2 linked regions of the Homo sapiens genome follow. The main gene of each other region encodes a partner of the protein of the gene in region 2 in a complex. Each region holds a gene or a part of one and is shown on either strand. Other genes may lie near its edges.

Region 1 (7,546 bases), on a different chromosome or scaffold from region 2:
GGAGGATTGCTTGAGCCTAGTAGTTTGAGACCAGCCTGGGCAACATAGTAAGACCCTGTCTCTACAAAAAATACAAAAAGTAGCTATGCGTGGTGACACACACACAGCTACTGGGGAGGCTGAGATGGGAGTTTGAGTCTGCAGTGAGCTGTGATCATGCAACTGCACTCCAGCCTGGGTGATGGTGTGAGACCCTGTCTCAAAAAAAATGTACTTTAGTAATTAAAAATGATTTTTATAAATGGGCTTTAAAGAAGCAGGGCTTCTTGGTGAAAAGGCAGATTCCAGGTCTGGGGCAGGAATTTAAAAAAAATTTTTGGAATGTCTTGTCATACCAGAAAGCAAGGAAGCTTTGACATATTACTTTGCATCAAAAGGACTCAGGAAGCAACTTGAGGAGGCTCCCACTGGCTAAAGATGCAGACTTGAGCATCAATAGGAATAATAACTGAAATATACTAAAACTTATCAAGTATGTTTAAATCTATGAGCTTATAATTATGCTAAAAAATTCATTGGTCATCTTTGGAAGACTTACAAGGAACAATTAATTTGGAAAACTGGTTAAAAAGAGAAGAATAAAGTTTTTGAGGAACCTCTATACTAGTTCCCAAAATGGCTGTGCCAATTTATACTTCCCCCATCAGTTACAAGGCTTCCCTTTCTTTACATCCTCACTAACACTTGTTATTATTCGTCCTTTTGATGATAGCTATACTAACAAGTGTGAGATGCTAACTCATGGTTTTATTTTGCATTTCCTTGATGATTAGTGATGTTGAGCATATTTTTTATATATCTGCTTGCCATTTGTTTTTTTTGTTTTGTTTTGTTTTGTTTTTTTGAGATGAGGTCCTGCTCTGTTGCCCAGGCTGGAGTGCAGTGGCGCCATAATAGCTCACTGCAACCTCGAACTCCTGGGCTCAAGTGATCCTCCCACCTTGGTCTCCCCAAGTGATAGGATTACAGACATGAGCCACTGTGTCTGGCCTGTACCTCTTCTTTTGAGAAATGTCTGTTTAGATCCTTTGCCCGTATTTTAATGGGCGTATTTGCTACTGAGTTGAGCTTCTTAACCCTTTATCAGTTGTATAGTTTGCAAATGCTTTCTCCTAATCCGGGGTTGCCTATTCACTCTGTGTAATTGTTTCCTTTACTGTGCAGAAGCTTTTTAGTTTGATGCAATCTCATTGCATATTTTTGCTTTTGTTATCTGTGCTTTATGCTAAGTGAAATAAACCAGGCACAGAAAGTAGATACTGTATTATGTCACCTATTTGTGGAATCTAAAAAAGTTGATTTCATAGAAACAGAGAGTAGAAGGGTGGTGAGGCTTGGGGGGGTGGAGGAGGGATGGGGAAAAGGGAGATATTGATCAAAGTTTCAGTTAGACTGGAGGAATAAGTTTTAGTGATCTGTAGTACTGCATGGTGACCACAGTTGTTAATAATGTATATTTCAAAATTGCAAAAAGAATAGGTTTTTAATGTCCTCAACCACAAAAAAATAAGTTAGTGAGGTGATGGCTATGTTAATTAGCTTGGTTGACTCTTTCTAAAATGTATACGTGGATCAAACCATCACATTGTATGCCATAAATATACACAATTATATATCAACTTTAAATTTAAAAATTAAAAGAATAAAGCATATGTCTTCCCTCTCCTGTATGAACTAGACCATAGAGTAACCCAATAGTTGATGGGGGAAGCTTTTCTTTATAAAAGCATTCTAGCTAATAAGTGAAGAAGGAATGATAGAATATCACCATTAATAGTGAAAGCATTTATTAGGCCGGGCTTGGTGGCTCACGCCTGTAATCCCAGCACTTCGGGAGGCCATGGCAGGTGGATCACCTGAGGTCAGGAGTTCGAGACCAGCCTGGCCAACATGGCAAAACCCCATCTCTACTAAAAATACAAAAATTAGCCAGGCATGGTAGCAGGAGCCTGTAATCCCAGCTACTCAGGAGGCGGAGGCAGGAGAATCTCTTGAACCTGGGAGGTGGAGGTTGCAGTGAGCTGAGATTGCACCATTGCATTCCAGCCTGGGCGACAGAGCAAGACTCCATCTCAAAAAATAAAAAAAAAGTTAAAGCATTTATCAGTGACAAAAACGAGATACAATCAGGTATTAAGTACCTTGTGGTAAACAATTTCACCAGTGAAGTAGTCTTGCACAAAGAGAAAAGAACACAAACCTAATTAAGCTTCTGGTTCTACCTACCAATTTACAGGAGATATACACGGGACAGGAAACATGTTAAAGGACACCATAGGGATGCAGTCAGCAAAATTCAAACTTTGGGAAGCTGACCTTCTTACTTCAACAAATTGTAATAAAAATGGAGATTTAAATTAAACTTTTAGGCCGGGTGCGGTAGCTCACCCCTGTAATCTCAGCACTTTGGGAGGCTGAGGCGAGTGGATCACTTGAGGTCAGGAGTTCGAGACCAGCCTGGCCAACATGGTGCAACCCCATCTCTACTCAAAATACAAAAGAAAAAAAAAACAGCTGGGTGCGGTGCGGTGGCGTGTGCCTGTAATCCCAGCTACTTAGGAGGCTGAGGCAGGAGAATTGCCTGAACCCGGGAGGAGGAGGAGGTTGCGGTGAGCCAAGATCGTGCCACTGCACTCCAGCCTGGGCGACAGAGTGAGTGACACTCCGTCTCCAAAAATAAATAATGAGTGACACTCCGTCTCCAAAAATAAATAAATAAACACACAAACTTTTAAAGGATTAAAAGAAACTCAGAGAGGCACATTGACAAATTATATCTGTCTTATTTGGATCCTGACTCAGTTAATGAGAAATTGGAGCACTGAATGGATTTTTTTTTTTTTTTTTTTGAGACAGGGTCTCACTTGATCGCCCAGGCTGAAGTGCAGTGGTGTGATCTTGGCTCACTGCAACCTTCACCTCCCAGGCTCAAGGGATTCACTTGCCTCAGCCTCCGGAGTAGGTGGGACTACAGGCGTGCGCCATCATGCCCGGCTAGCTTTTTGTATTTTTAGTGGAGACAGGGCTTTGCCATGTTCCCAGGTCTTGAACTCCTGAGCTCAGGCAGTCTGCCTGCCTCGGCCTCTCAAAGTGCTAGGATTACAGGCATGAGCCACCACGCCCAGCTGATATTTAATATGAAGGAATTGCTGTCTTTTTTTTTTTTTTTTCTGTTAGGTATGATAATGGTATTGTGGTTAGGTTGGGAGGAAAAAGCATTCTTGTGTTGTCCCTGAGATACATATTGAAGTATTTTTGAATGGAATATGTCTGGGCTTTGCTTCAAAATGATCTGCGAAGAGGGGGAGTAAGTTGGAGTATAGATTAAATAAGATCAAACATGATATATGAATTGTTGAAAATGGATAATGGAGACTTGGACGTAATGTTCCTCTGCTTTTGTATATGTTTAAACATTTCTATTATAAAGTTTAAAAGTTCTTGGGGTGGACATCTATCACTATAGACAATCTAAATTAAATGCATCATGCCGTGTTTACTACAGAGTTGTCATCTAAGTGAAGATGAAGTGTTCTTTCTTTATTTTTTTTTGAGACAGAGTCTCGCTCTGTCGCCCAGGCTGGAGTGCAGTGGCACGATCTCAGCTCACTGCAGCTTCCGCCTCCCAGGTTCAAGCAATTCTCCTGCCTCGGCCTCCTGAGTAGCTGGGATTACAGGCGTGAGCCACCATGCCCGGCTAATTTTTTGTATTTTTTAGTAGAGACGGGGTTTCGCCATGTTGGCCAGGGTGGTCTTGAACTCCGGGCCTCAAGTGATCTGCCCGCCTTGGCCTCCCAAAGTGCTGGGATTACAGGCATGAGCCACCGCGCCCAGCAGATGAAGTGTTCTTTATCAGTCTTTAATAAACATACAATTACTCAGTGTCTTAATCAAATACCTTTTCGGTGTGTGTGTTTTTTTTTGTTTTTGTTTTTTGTTTTTGGAGACACAGTCTTGCTCTGTTGCCCAGGCTGGAGTGCAGTGGCGCAATCTTGGCTCACTGTAACCTCTGCCTCTCGGGTTCAAGCCATTCTCATGCCTCAGCCTCTCGAGTAGCTGGGACTACAGTTGCACATCACCATGCCCAGGTAATTTTTGTATTTTTAGTAGAGATGGGGTTTCACCATGTTGGCCAGGCTGGTCTTGAACTCCTGACCTCAAGTGGTCCGACCTCGGCCTCCCAAAGTACTGGGATTACATGTGTGAGCCACTGCACCTGGCCGGTGTTTTGATTGAAGTTTGCATTTACCATGCTGTAGGAGTATCTTTCTTGATCAGTGTTTCTCTTCCTTGGTTATACATGAGGAGCTTATAAAAGATCTGAATATCCTGACCCTATCTTCAGAGGGTCTGATTTAACTGGCCTGTGATAGAGCCTCGGTACCTTTTCTAGGAGGTAAATTCTTAATATATTGCCAAGGTTGAGAATCACTGCTCTAGACAACATGACAGCTATTTGGATGACACCGTGTAATGGTTAGTATTTCCTTGAAGTATTGTATCTTACTGTGTATACAGCTCTAATTGCATGTCTTAATAAGGTCTTGCTGAGCATGTAGTTTGTATGCATACAACTGAGGTATATATTTACCTTTTCAGTAAGAGTTTGCTGCCTCTTTTGCCACTATTTTTCAGAAGAGTTAGACTGGTTAATTGTGAATAAAATAGGGCCAATCATTAGAAGTGTTCAGTTTAATGAAATTGGAGCAGGCCCAATATTTAATTTTTCTCTTCAGGACCCATTTTGCTCATGAGAACATGAGGCATGAGAAGTTATTTTGATAATGTTGAGGTTTGTAAAAATAATGAGAAGACACTAAATAAATAATTGGTTTATTAAAATGAAATGTAATTGAAAGTCTGCAAGGACCTTGGAGTAAAAAAATTGTAATTGGGAAGTTGATCTGGTGAAATCCTAACTTGCTCTGAGTAACTAACTGTCTTGAAATTTTTAGGCTGTCACCCTTGACCCAAACTTTCTGGATGCTTATATCAATTTAGGAAATGTCTTGAAAGAGGCACGCATTTTTGACAGGTGAGAGAATGTTCTGTTTAATAAATTTTCTTGAATCTTTGTTGTATTGACACTTGACAGTTTGGACCGAAATGATGACAATAGTCCATTGAAGCATATTTGCCTTTTCTAGCACGTTGTTCTCTGCCCATGTCCTGTGTTGCCTTTTATTTATAGATGTTGTTCGTTGCCTGACTTTTTGTTGTTGGCTTTCCTCAAAGCCGTTATCCTTCTCATTGGGAGTTTAGTTGAAATTTTTTTATTGTTAAAATGGTTGAAATGATTCTTTCTTAGACTAAATTATTCCTTTGACCTGATTTTAGAAAGCAAAGTAAATCCAGACTTTTAAATTTTTTGTTGTTGTCAAAGGAAAGCCTATTTTTTATGTGGGAGTAGAAAACTTCCCAGTGTAAAGACACATTTTATAAAGGTGTGATTTTGGTTTGAGGTTAAAATATAATACAGCATGAATTATGTAATTAATTACAATTACTTGATATATTTTGATATAGTACAGCTTGAATGAGTTGTAACAAACCATCCATTAAGCATGAGTTACATTTTGTGTGTGTGTGTGTGTGTGTGTGTGTGTGTGTGTGTGTGTGTGTTTATTTACAGAGCTGTGGCAGCTTATCTTCGTGCCCTAAGTTTGAGTCCAAATCACGCAGTGGTGCACGGCAACCTGGCTTGTGTATACTATGAGCAAGGCCTGATAGATCTGGCAATAGACACCTACAGGCGGGCTATCGAACTACAACCACATTTCCCTGATGCTTACTGCAACCTAGCCAATGCTCTCAAAGAGAAGGGCAGTGTAAGGATTTTTACTCATTCTATTTGTTATCTGGTAGGATTAAGAGTCTTTTCTGGCCAGGTGTGGTGGCTCACACTTGTAATGCCAGCACTTCGGGAGGCCGAGATCAGAGGATTGCTTGAGCTTAGGGTTTCGAGACCAGCCTAGGCAACATGACGAAACCCTGTCTCTACAAGAAATACAAAAATTAGCCGGGCATGGTGGCACACACCTGTAGTCCCAGCTCCTTGGGAGGCCGAGGTGGGAGGATCGATTGAGTCCTGGGAGGTTGAGGCTGCAGTGGGCCATGATTGTGCCACAGCACTCCAGCCTGGGCAACAGAGCACGAGACTCTGTCTCAAAAAAATCACAAAAACCAAAAAACAGCAAAAAAGGAAAGTCTTTTGTACAAGTATTGAGATGGTATATTGGTTTACTTTAGAGTTTTGGTTGAGGGTAAGAATACCAAAAAATATCAATTTTCTGTAGCATTACCAGCCATTAGGCTTAATTAAACAATTATTAGAACAGTATCAGTGGAGGCTTTATGATTCTGTACAGTTTTTGAAGACTTTGTTTTGTTTTCTAGGTTGCTGAAGCAGAAGATTGTTATAATACAGCTCTCCGTCTGTGTCCCACCCATGCAGACTCTCTGAATAACCTAGCCAATATCAAACGAGAACAGGGAAACATTGAAGAGGCAGTTCGCTTGTATCGTAAAGCATTAGAAGTATGTGAGGGTGGTGTAGCTGGGCATTTAGCATGATAGTAGAGGGAAAGCAGTTAAGTTTACCATCATCCACCTCTTTTGTAAAAATAGTGGTTGAATCATTTACAAGAGGATTATTCATTGAAGTAACAATTGAGTACCTAAGGTATGATGTGAGGCCCTATGTGACATTCCAGAAAATCCCTGCATTCAGAGTTCATTATTCTGTGGATAAGATCTGTACAAAAAAATTAAACATTAACCCACAGTTCAAGAGAAGTTACTTATAAGTATATAATCTTAGTGCCTGATGGCTGTATGGTAGTGGTTAGTAGATGTGGTAGGAGTTTAGCAGAGAGAGATTTCAGTGGTGTTGGAGTGGTCAGGATAAACTAAGAGGAGAAGAGGTGTACCTCATTATGTTTGAAACAAGAAGAGGTATAAAATAGAGGAAGAGGTAGAATTTGAGAATGAATAGACTTGGAAAAAGTAGAGACAAATTTAGGGGTTTAAATGTACTTGAGCAAAGTTCTTAAGGTTGTGGTGAATTATTACTGCTGCTTTAGCAATTTTTTTAACCTCAGTTCTGATCTTGACTCTTTATAGGTCTTCCCAGAGTTTGCTGCTGCCCATTCAAATTTAGCAAGTGTACTGCAGCAGCAGGGAAAACTGCAGGAAGCTCTGATGCATTATAAGGAGGCTATTCGGTAAGAGACACTAACAGCCTTATTTTTAAAATTATTTTTAATTTTAAAATGTTTGACATTCGGCACATTGCAGATGCTAAAATGGCTTTAAATAACAACGGAATAAGTTAGCATTACAGTGGGTTAAAGATTTTTGTATTGGAGAAATAAAACCTTTGGCTTCTCTTTTAGAATCAGTCCTACCTTTGCTGATGCCTACTCTAATATGGGAAACACTCTAAAGGAGATGCAGGATGTTCAGGGAGCCTTGCAGTGTTATACGCGTGCCATCCAAATTAATCCTGCATTTGCAGATGCACATAGCAATCTGGCTTCCATTCATA
Region 2 (8,003 bases):
ATGTACAAGGAGATGAATGTTGTTTTCATGCCTGTAACACAACATCCATTCTGCAGCCCCATAAATCAAGGAGTATTTTGACTTCCAAGTTTTATTACCTATGAAATAAATTTTGTAAGCCTATAGCTGCCATAGATAGTGACTCCTCTGATGGATCTGGGCAAAGTCAGTAGAAAACCTTCTGGAAAGGATTCATCATTCTAGATGCCCTGAAGAACATCAATAATTCATGGGAGGAAAAATATCAACATTAACAGGAGTTTGGCAGAAATTGACTCCAGCCCTCATGAATGGCTTTGAGTTGTTCAAGACTTTGGTGGAAGAAGTCACTGCAAGTGTGATAGAAACAACAAGAGAACTAGAATTAAAAGTGGATCCTGAAGATGTGACTGAGTTGCTGCAATTTCATGATAAAACTTGAACAGATGAGGAGTTGCTTCTTATAGATGAGCAAATAAAGTAGTTTATGAAGATGGAATCTACTTCTGGCAAAGATGCTGTGAACATTGTTGAAATGACAACAACGGATTTAGAATATTTTGAATATTAAATAAACCTAGTTGATAAAGCAGTGGCAGGGTTTGAGAGGATTAACTCCAATTCTTAAAGAAGTTCTACTGTGACCAAAATGCTATTAAACAGCATTACTTGCTACAGAGAAATATTTAATGAAAGGAAGAGTCAATCGATGCAGCAAACTTCATTGTTGTCTCATTTTAAGAACTTGCCACAGCCACCTCAACCTTCAGCAACCATGATCAGTCAGCAGCCATCAACATCAAGGCAAGACTCTCCATCAACAAAAAGATCACCATTTGCTGAAGGCTCAGGTGATCATTAGCTTTTTTTTTTAGCAATACATATCTGTGTGTGTATGTGTATGTGTATAAAATTTAGAGATGGGATCTCACTGTCATGATCATAGCTCACACTCCAGCAGCCTCAGACTCCTGGACTCAAGGGATCCTCCTTGCCTCAGCCTCCCAAGTAGCTGGAACTACAGGCATGCACCACCATACCTGACCAATTAAAAACAACTTTTTAGAAACAGGGTCTCACTCTGCTGTCCAGGCTGCCTTGAGTCCCTGCCTCAGCCTCCTGAGCCCTGACACCCAGCTCATGGTAACTGTTGGTTTGCTTGTTTGAGACAGGGTCTCATTCTGTTTGCTCAGGCTGGAGTACAAAGGCATGACCACAGCTCACTGCAGCCTCAACCTTCTGGGTTCAAGGAATCCTCTCAACTCAGCCTCCCAAGTATCTGGGACTACAGGTGTGTGCCAACATGCCTGGCTAATTTTTGTATTTTTTTTGTAGAGACAGGGTCTCACTATGTTGCCCAGGCTGGCCTTGAACACCTGGGCTCATGTGATCCACCCGCCTCAGCCTCCCAAAGTGCTGGGATTACAGGCGTGAGCCACTGCACCAGGCCATTAAGCCACATCTTAAGGGTGGACAGGTCAGGGATGGGCATTTCAAGCCAAGGAAAACAGCCTATTTAAAGAAACCACAAAAGAGCCTACCCTCTAAGACATAAAGCCGGAACAAAGGTAAAGACAAGTGGAGGGAGATGATGGTGGAAGAGTAGAAGTACTTGGTCTTAAAGAGCTTTATAATTCACCATAAGAAGTTTGGATTTTATTCAGTACAGCAGGTAGCCTTGGAAGGATATGAGCAAGGGCGTGGCAGGCATGCACCACCCTTCTATAGAAGATAGAATGGAGAGAGGTAAAACTGGAGACTAGGATAGTTAAGGGGTTGCTGCAAGGTTAAGACCATGAGAGCTTGGTCAAGAACAGTGAGGAGGCCAGGTGCCGTGGCTCACGCCTGTAGTCCCAGGACTTTGGGAGGCCCTGGCTGACAGATAGCTTAAACCCAGGAGTTTGAGACCAGCCTGGGCAACACAGTGAGACCTCATCTCTGTTAAATATAATAATAAAAATAATTAAAGAACAGTGAGGGTTGGGCGCAGTGGCTCACGCCTGTAATCCCAACACTTTGGGAGGCCGAGGCAGGCGTATCACCTGAGGTCAGGAGTTCGAGTCCAGCCTGGCCAACATGGTGAAACCCCATCTCTACAAAAATACAAAAATTAGCCAGGCATGGTGGCGGGTGCCTGTAATCCCAGCTACTTAGGAGGCTGAGGCGGGATAATCGCTTGAACCCAGGAGGCGGAGGTTGCAGTGAACTGAGATTGTGCCACTGCACTCCAGACTGAGCGACAGAGTGAGACTCCCTCTCAAAAAAAAAAACAAAAAAAAAAACAACAACAACAGTGAGGAGACATGAAGAGGGATGGATTTAAGGGGCATTTATTTATTTAGTCTACAAAATTAACCTGGTCATCAACGGGTTTTATGGGTGACAAAAAAAATCCAAGATGACTCCAAGGTTTCTGGTTTAGACAACTGTTGAACAGATAATTCACAGATGATAATTCACAGATGATAATCCCAAAGGCAGAACGGATATACAAAGGAAATAAAAGATGAGAGAATTATGGTATTTGGTTCAGTTTAAGGAGCAGGGTGTTTAGGAGTTAGAGGAGGGCAGAAGATGGAACCCTGGGGAAACAGCAACATTTAAAAGGGCAGGAAAGGTAGAGAATAAGGGCCAAGGGATTACTCAACAGTCCGCTCTCCAGGTCTGCCTGGCTCAGATCTATATAAAGAAAAGGAGCAGGGAATGAAGTAAAACTGTTACAGGAAAGGGGTCCCAATCCAGACCCCAAGACAGGGTTCTTGGATCTCACGCAAGACAGAATTCAGGGCAAGTCCACAGTACAAAGCAAAAGCAAGTTTATTAAGAACGTAAAGTGGTGAAAGTACAGCTACTCCACAGACAGAGTAGGGCATTCCCGAAAGTAAGAGGAGGAACGCGTCCACCCTAAGTACAACACTTAGTTTATATATAGGATAAAAAAAGATCATGGGGAGATGTGCTTTGCTACAAGGGTTTGTGATAAAGGATTAATTACTATATTATGTAAGAATCGATATTATCTTTATTTATGAGACAGAGTCTTACTCTGTCGCCCAGGCTGGAGTGCAGTGGTGCAAGCACGGCTCACTGCAACCCCCGCCTCCCGGATTCAAGCGATTATCCTGCCTCAGCCTCCAGAGTAGCTGAAATTCGAGGGCATGTGCCACCACACCCGGTTAATTTTTGTATTTTTAGTAGAGACGTTTTCACCATGTTGACCAGGCTAGTCTTGAACTCCTGACCTCAAGTGATCCGCCCGCCTCGGCCTTCCAAAGTGCTGGGATTACAGGCGTGAGGCACTGTGCCCAGCCCAATATTATTATCTTTAAAGCAAAATTAGGAATGCTTCTGTTCTCAAAATATCGGGATATCTGGACACTTGGTAGTCTGGGTCTGTGTAGTAAACATTATCAATCTGTTGCCTTAATGGTATACACATCTAGAGGCTAGGAATACCTAACTTCCCGGGAATGCAGCCCAGCAAGTCCCAGCCTCATTTTCCTAGCCCTCACTCAACACAGAGTCGCTCTAGTTCGAACCCCTCTAACATATTCTCTCTCAGGTGTGAAAATTGCTGCAGCAGTTCGCTATTTGCAACACAGCACATGGAAATCACAGCAATGGAGAGCCTTCAGAAAAGCTTCTGGGGAGGGACAGCCTGGTGGCTCAACTCCTGTAATCCCAACCCATGGGGAGGTCGAGATGGGAGGATCCCTTGAGCTCGAGTTCCAGACTGACCTGGGCAACGTGGGGAGACAACGCCTCTATTTATTTAAAAAATTACATATATATATATATATATACATACACACACACATATATACATACACACATATATACATACATATACATACATATATATAAAACGCTTCTGCGTTGGCAATTGAGATGATTTGGCGAGTGTGTCTTTTTTCATTGCTAAAAATCTGTCACGTTGGCTCTCACAGAAACTTGTGATACCTGAAGACACAGGTAATGGGATAAAGATTAGCACTCTGGGAAAAGGTTCCACAATTTTATTAATCATACACCATCTGTGTCCGCCCTTTTAAAGAAATGGGCGCAATCAGCCAACGACCTCGGCTTTACACCTGTTCTCCAAGAGGCCCTAGTTGTTCCCTACTGTAAGCTGCCCCAGAAAAGGTCCGCATCAATTAACCCACGGGAACAGCCCGGGGCTGGAGGATGCCCCAGGAATCCGGCCTCCCGCCGCGCCTCCTCCCCCCACAAGCAGTTCCTTCCTGCCTGCCGGAAGCTCAGGGCTCCGCCCACTTCGGCAACTCTGAAGCCACCGCCGGAAACACCTGGCCTCAGCCAATAGTTAGCTTCCCAGGAAACGTTACCTCTGACCTCGGGGCTAATCAGAGACAGTGGGACGCACCCCTCGCGAGAGGTGAGGTTGAAGCTGCCTCCGCCATCTTGGAGATGGGAGACGGGCGATGGCTGTGGTCCTTCTGCTAATGCAAACAACAAAACGGGCACACTAGTCACCCCCGAGGGAGGCCACCATCACTGTAACTGTTGGCCAAAGCTACAAAAGAAGCGAGGGAATCCAACCGAGCGCAGCGACACTGAGAACAGCTTCCCCTGCCTTCTGCGGCGGCAGAAGTGAAGTGCCTGAGGACCGGAAGGATGGTGCAGTCCTGCTCCGCCTACGGCTGCAAGAACCGCTACGACAAGGACAAGCCCGTTTCTTTCCACAAGTGAGGACCCTGCGCGCCTCGCGGGGCCGGTCTCAGCCGGGGTGGGGGCGCGCGGCCGGCGGGGCCGGGGGCGGAGCCAGGCGCGTGTCCGCGCGAGGGGCGGGTGGGGTCTGGGGCCGGCCGTGTCGGGCGTTTCCCACCGCGTCCCGCTGGGAACCGCCGCCCGATCGCGCGTTCTCGGCGCGCGTCGCCGCGGCAGCCGTTTCTCGCGCTCCTGGAACAGGCCCTGGTTGCAGGCTTCGCTCACGGCCTGGGTTGACGCGTTCGGAGCCCACGGGCGATGCCTAGGGTGGCGCGGGTTTTGCCACCACCAGGGTCACAGAGCAGCCAGGTGTTTTAATATGGTCTTAGGGGTAAATTTAAAATAGAAACAAAGGCCTTTAAACGAAGAAATCACTACTTTTCGCCCTTGCCGTGGATGGGAGGCCAGCATCGTAGCAATTAAGGGTTTTTTGGCTGGGAAATCAGGGAGAATTTTTGCCCCCAATCTCTAGGAACTAAGCTTTAAGGACCCTGTATTTTGGAGAAAGCTTCAGGTACTGCCGAGATAAATCGTTATCTTTTCAGCACACAATAATGATAATATGGACAGTTACAACATGGATCATAATAAAATGACTCACACGGATCTTTATTTATTATGGCATTACCTGTGCATAGAGAAAGCTCTTTCGAAAGAAACTGCCCCACAGCTTTCAGAGCTGTCTTATCCAGTAGGTAGCACAGTTAAGTGATAGGATCAAAAATATTCTCTTGAAAATAGGAAAAAAGTGCAGAGTTGTAATTACTTATGATAAACGCTTGTAAAATGTGACATAACATTTTCATTCAGCTGAATTTGTTTACAAATTTTAATTACATTTATGTTAAGTTTTCTTTGCAAGAATTCCTGACAGCTATACGCAGATGATAGGTAAGAAATCAGATCCAGGGGTAAACTATACAGATTAGCCATAGGTAATTAGCTAATTATCTTTTATAATTAGGTAAATAATTACAAAAGCAAAATGTTAAATATCTTTTCAGTTAATTTATTTTTTTGCTGTGGGGCCATCTGTGTTTACTAGGGGAGTGTCCATGCATTTTTTAAATATGTTTGATATCATGTGAGATGGACCCTATAGAAATAAGAGTGTGTAGAACATAGAGAGGTCTCCAGAGTAATAATGTTACCCCTTGGAGAAGGGGATAGAACACTTAGAGGATTCAGTTCAGGATATCCTAATATTATCTCTTGATTTAATTGGAATTTCTGTAAACATGTTCTTTCTAAATGTAGGGAAAGGTCAGGTGATGGTAACAGGATTACATGCCCAGCTCCCCACCCACATTTCTGATGGCTTGGCAGAAGGAATCTAAAATTATGGAAAATGTTTCATTGGCACTGGAAACTAGTTTAAAGAGGGTATTCACACGTCGGAAATAACTGTTTTTGTCGAGGCACGATGGCTCATGCCTGTAATTCCCAGCACTTGGGGAGGCCAAGGTGGGCGGATCACCTGACGTCAGGAGTTCGAGACCAGCCTGGCCAACATGGCAAAATCCCGTCTCTACTAAAAATACAAAATACAGGCGTACGCCTGTAATCTTAGCTACTTGGGAGGCTGAGGTAGGGGAATCACTTGAACCTGGGATATGGAGGTTGCAGTGAGCTGAGATCTTGCCCTGCACTCCAGCTTGGGTAACAGAGTGAGACTCCATCTCAAAAAAAAAAAAAAAAAAAAAAAAAGATACAACTGTTTCTGCTAGATGTTAAGCAGATATGGATTGAATCAAAAGAAGGGCTAACCTGCATCTTATCCCTTATCTAAAATAGCAGGTTTAGGGAGAGTAGATGGGAAAGATCTTAAGAGAATCTCACAAACAGCTGTAAATTTGTTGTCCTTGAGCCAGGAGGCCCTAGGTACTGAATTTTACCAGCAAATGCTACCATAGTTTATACTTACAGAGCCAGGAGGCCATAGGTACTGAATTTTACCAGCAAATGCTACCCTAGTTTATACTTATAGAGGCCGTTCCAGTTGAGATTTTCTTTCTTTTTTTTTTTTTTTTTTTTTTGAGATGGAGTCTTGCTCTGTCACCAGGCTAGAGTGCAGTGGCACGATCTCAGCTCAGTGCAACCTCTGCCTCCCGAGTTCAAGTGATTCTCCTGCCTCAGCCTCCCAAGTAGCTGGGACTACAGGTGTGCACCACCACGCCCAGCTAATTTTTGTATTTTTAGTAGAGACAGGGTTTCACCATGTTGGCCAGGATGGTCTCCATACTTCGACCTCCTGATCCGCCCTCCTCAGCCTCCCAAAGTGCTGGGATTACAGGCCTGATTACAGGCCATGCCCAGCCCCAGCTGAGATTTTCTAGGAGTACCACTTCTCCCACCCTCTACATAGTGGCAGCGGAGAGTGCTATGTCGTACAAAGAAAAGGGACTGTCATAAAGATCTCTTACTAGCAGAGTCAGGCTCTAGCATATCGTACATGGAAGAGAGACTGTGAAACATAAATTTGAAATTCCCTTCCCTTTTTCTTTCTAATCCCCCCAGTTTACCAAATTCTTAACTTGGAAGAGTAAAATTACCACAATAAATGTAAACTCTCACTATCCCCGTTTACCTGGGCCTAATGGACATCCCAGTTGATTAGAAAATAAATTCTTTCGTTATTATCTGCCTTTAATTCAAATTTAGCCTATTCATATTTGTCAGACTGATGCTAAGAGAACTAGAAGCCCCTTTTTCCCAGTACGCAGATACAAATGTGCAATCTTTGTCTCTCTGTGCAGCACACAGAAAATTACTGGTAAAAAATATGAATACAGGTTATTTTTTTCTTTTTGAGACGGTATGGCTCTGTCACCCAGGCTGGAGTGCAGTGGAATGATCTCAGCTCACCGCAGCCTTGACCTCCCAGGCTCGAGCAGTCCTTCCACCTCAGTCTCAGCCTCCTGAGTACCTGGGCACATACCACCATGCCCAGCTAATTTTTGTGTCTTTTGTAGAGACAGGGTTTTGCCGTGTTGCCCAGGCTAGTCTCGAACTCTTGGACTTAAGTAGTCCCTCGGACAGTGGCCTCCCAAGTGCTGGGATTACAGGCATGAGCCGTGGGCACATTTACTCTATAGTATGTATTTTACCTGAATCTTTTGGTGAACTCAGTATAAAAAGTTAAACGTTAATGAATGAGGGCCAGGCACAGTGGCTCACGCATGTAATTCGAGCACTTTGGGAGGCCAAGGCGGGCAGATCACAAGGTCAAGAAATCGAATCCATCCTGGCCAACATGGTGAAAGCCCATCTCTACTAAAAGTACAAAACTTAGCTGGGCG

What was found. The genes of interacting proteins can lie anywhere in the genome.
Region 1: THAP1 (region 2) and OGT share a complex: the UniProt entries of both Homo sapiens proteins name them as parts of the THAP1/THAP3-HCFC1-OGT complex.

Annotation. Positions count from the first base shown.
Region 1 is NC_000023.11:71,549,558-71,557,103, forward strand, and holds part of OGT (UDP-N-acetylglucosamine--peptide N-acetylglucosaminyltransferase 110 kDa subunit), read left to right. Parts: intron 1-4,955; coding exon 4,956-5,035; intron 5,036-5,632; coding exon 5,633-5,828; intron 5,829-6,396; coding exon 6,397-6,537; intron 6,538-7,122; coding exon 7,123-7,223; intron 7,224-7,394; coding exon 7,395-7,546. UniProt on the Homo sapiens protein: Catalyzes the transfer of a single N-acetylglucosamine from UDP-GlcNAc to a serine or threonine residue in cytoplasmic and nuclear proteins resulting in their modification with a beta-linked N-acetylglucosamine (O-GlcNAc).
Region 2 is NC_000008.11:42,839,703-42,847,705, reverse strand, and holds the start of THAP1 (THAP domain-containing protein 1), read left to right. Parts: upstream 1-4,380; 5' UTR 4,381-4,611; coding exon 4,612-4,682; exon of another isoform or gene 4,683-4,772; intron 4,773-8,003. UniProt on the Homo sapiens protein: DNA-binding transcription regulator that regulates endothelial cell proliferation and G1/S cell-cycle progression.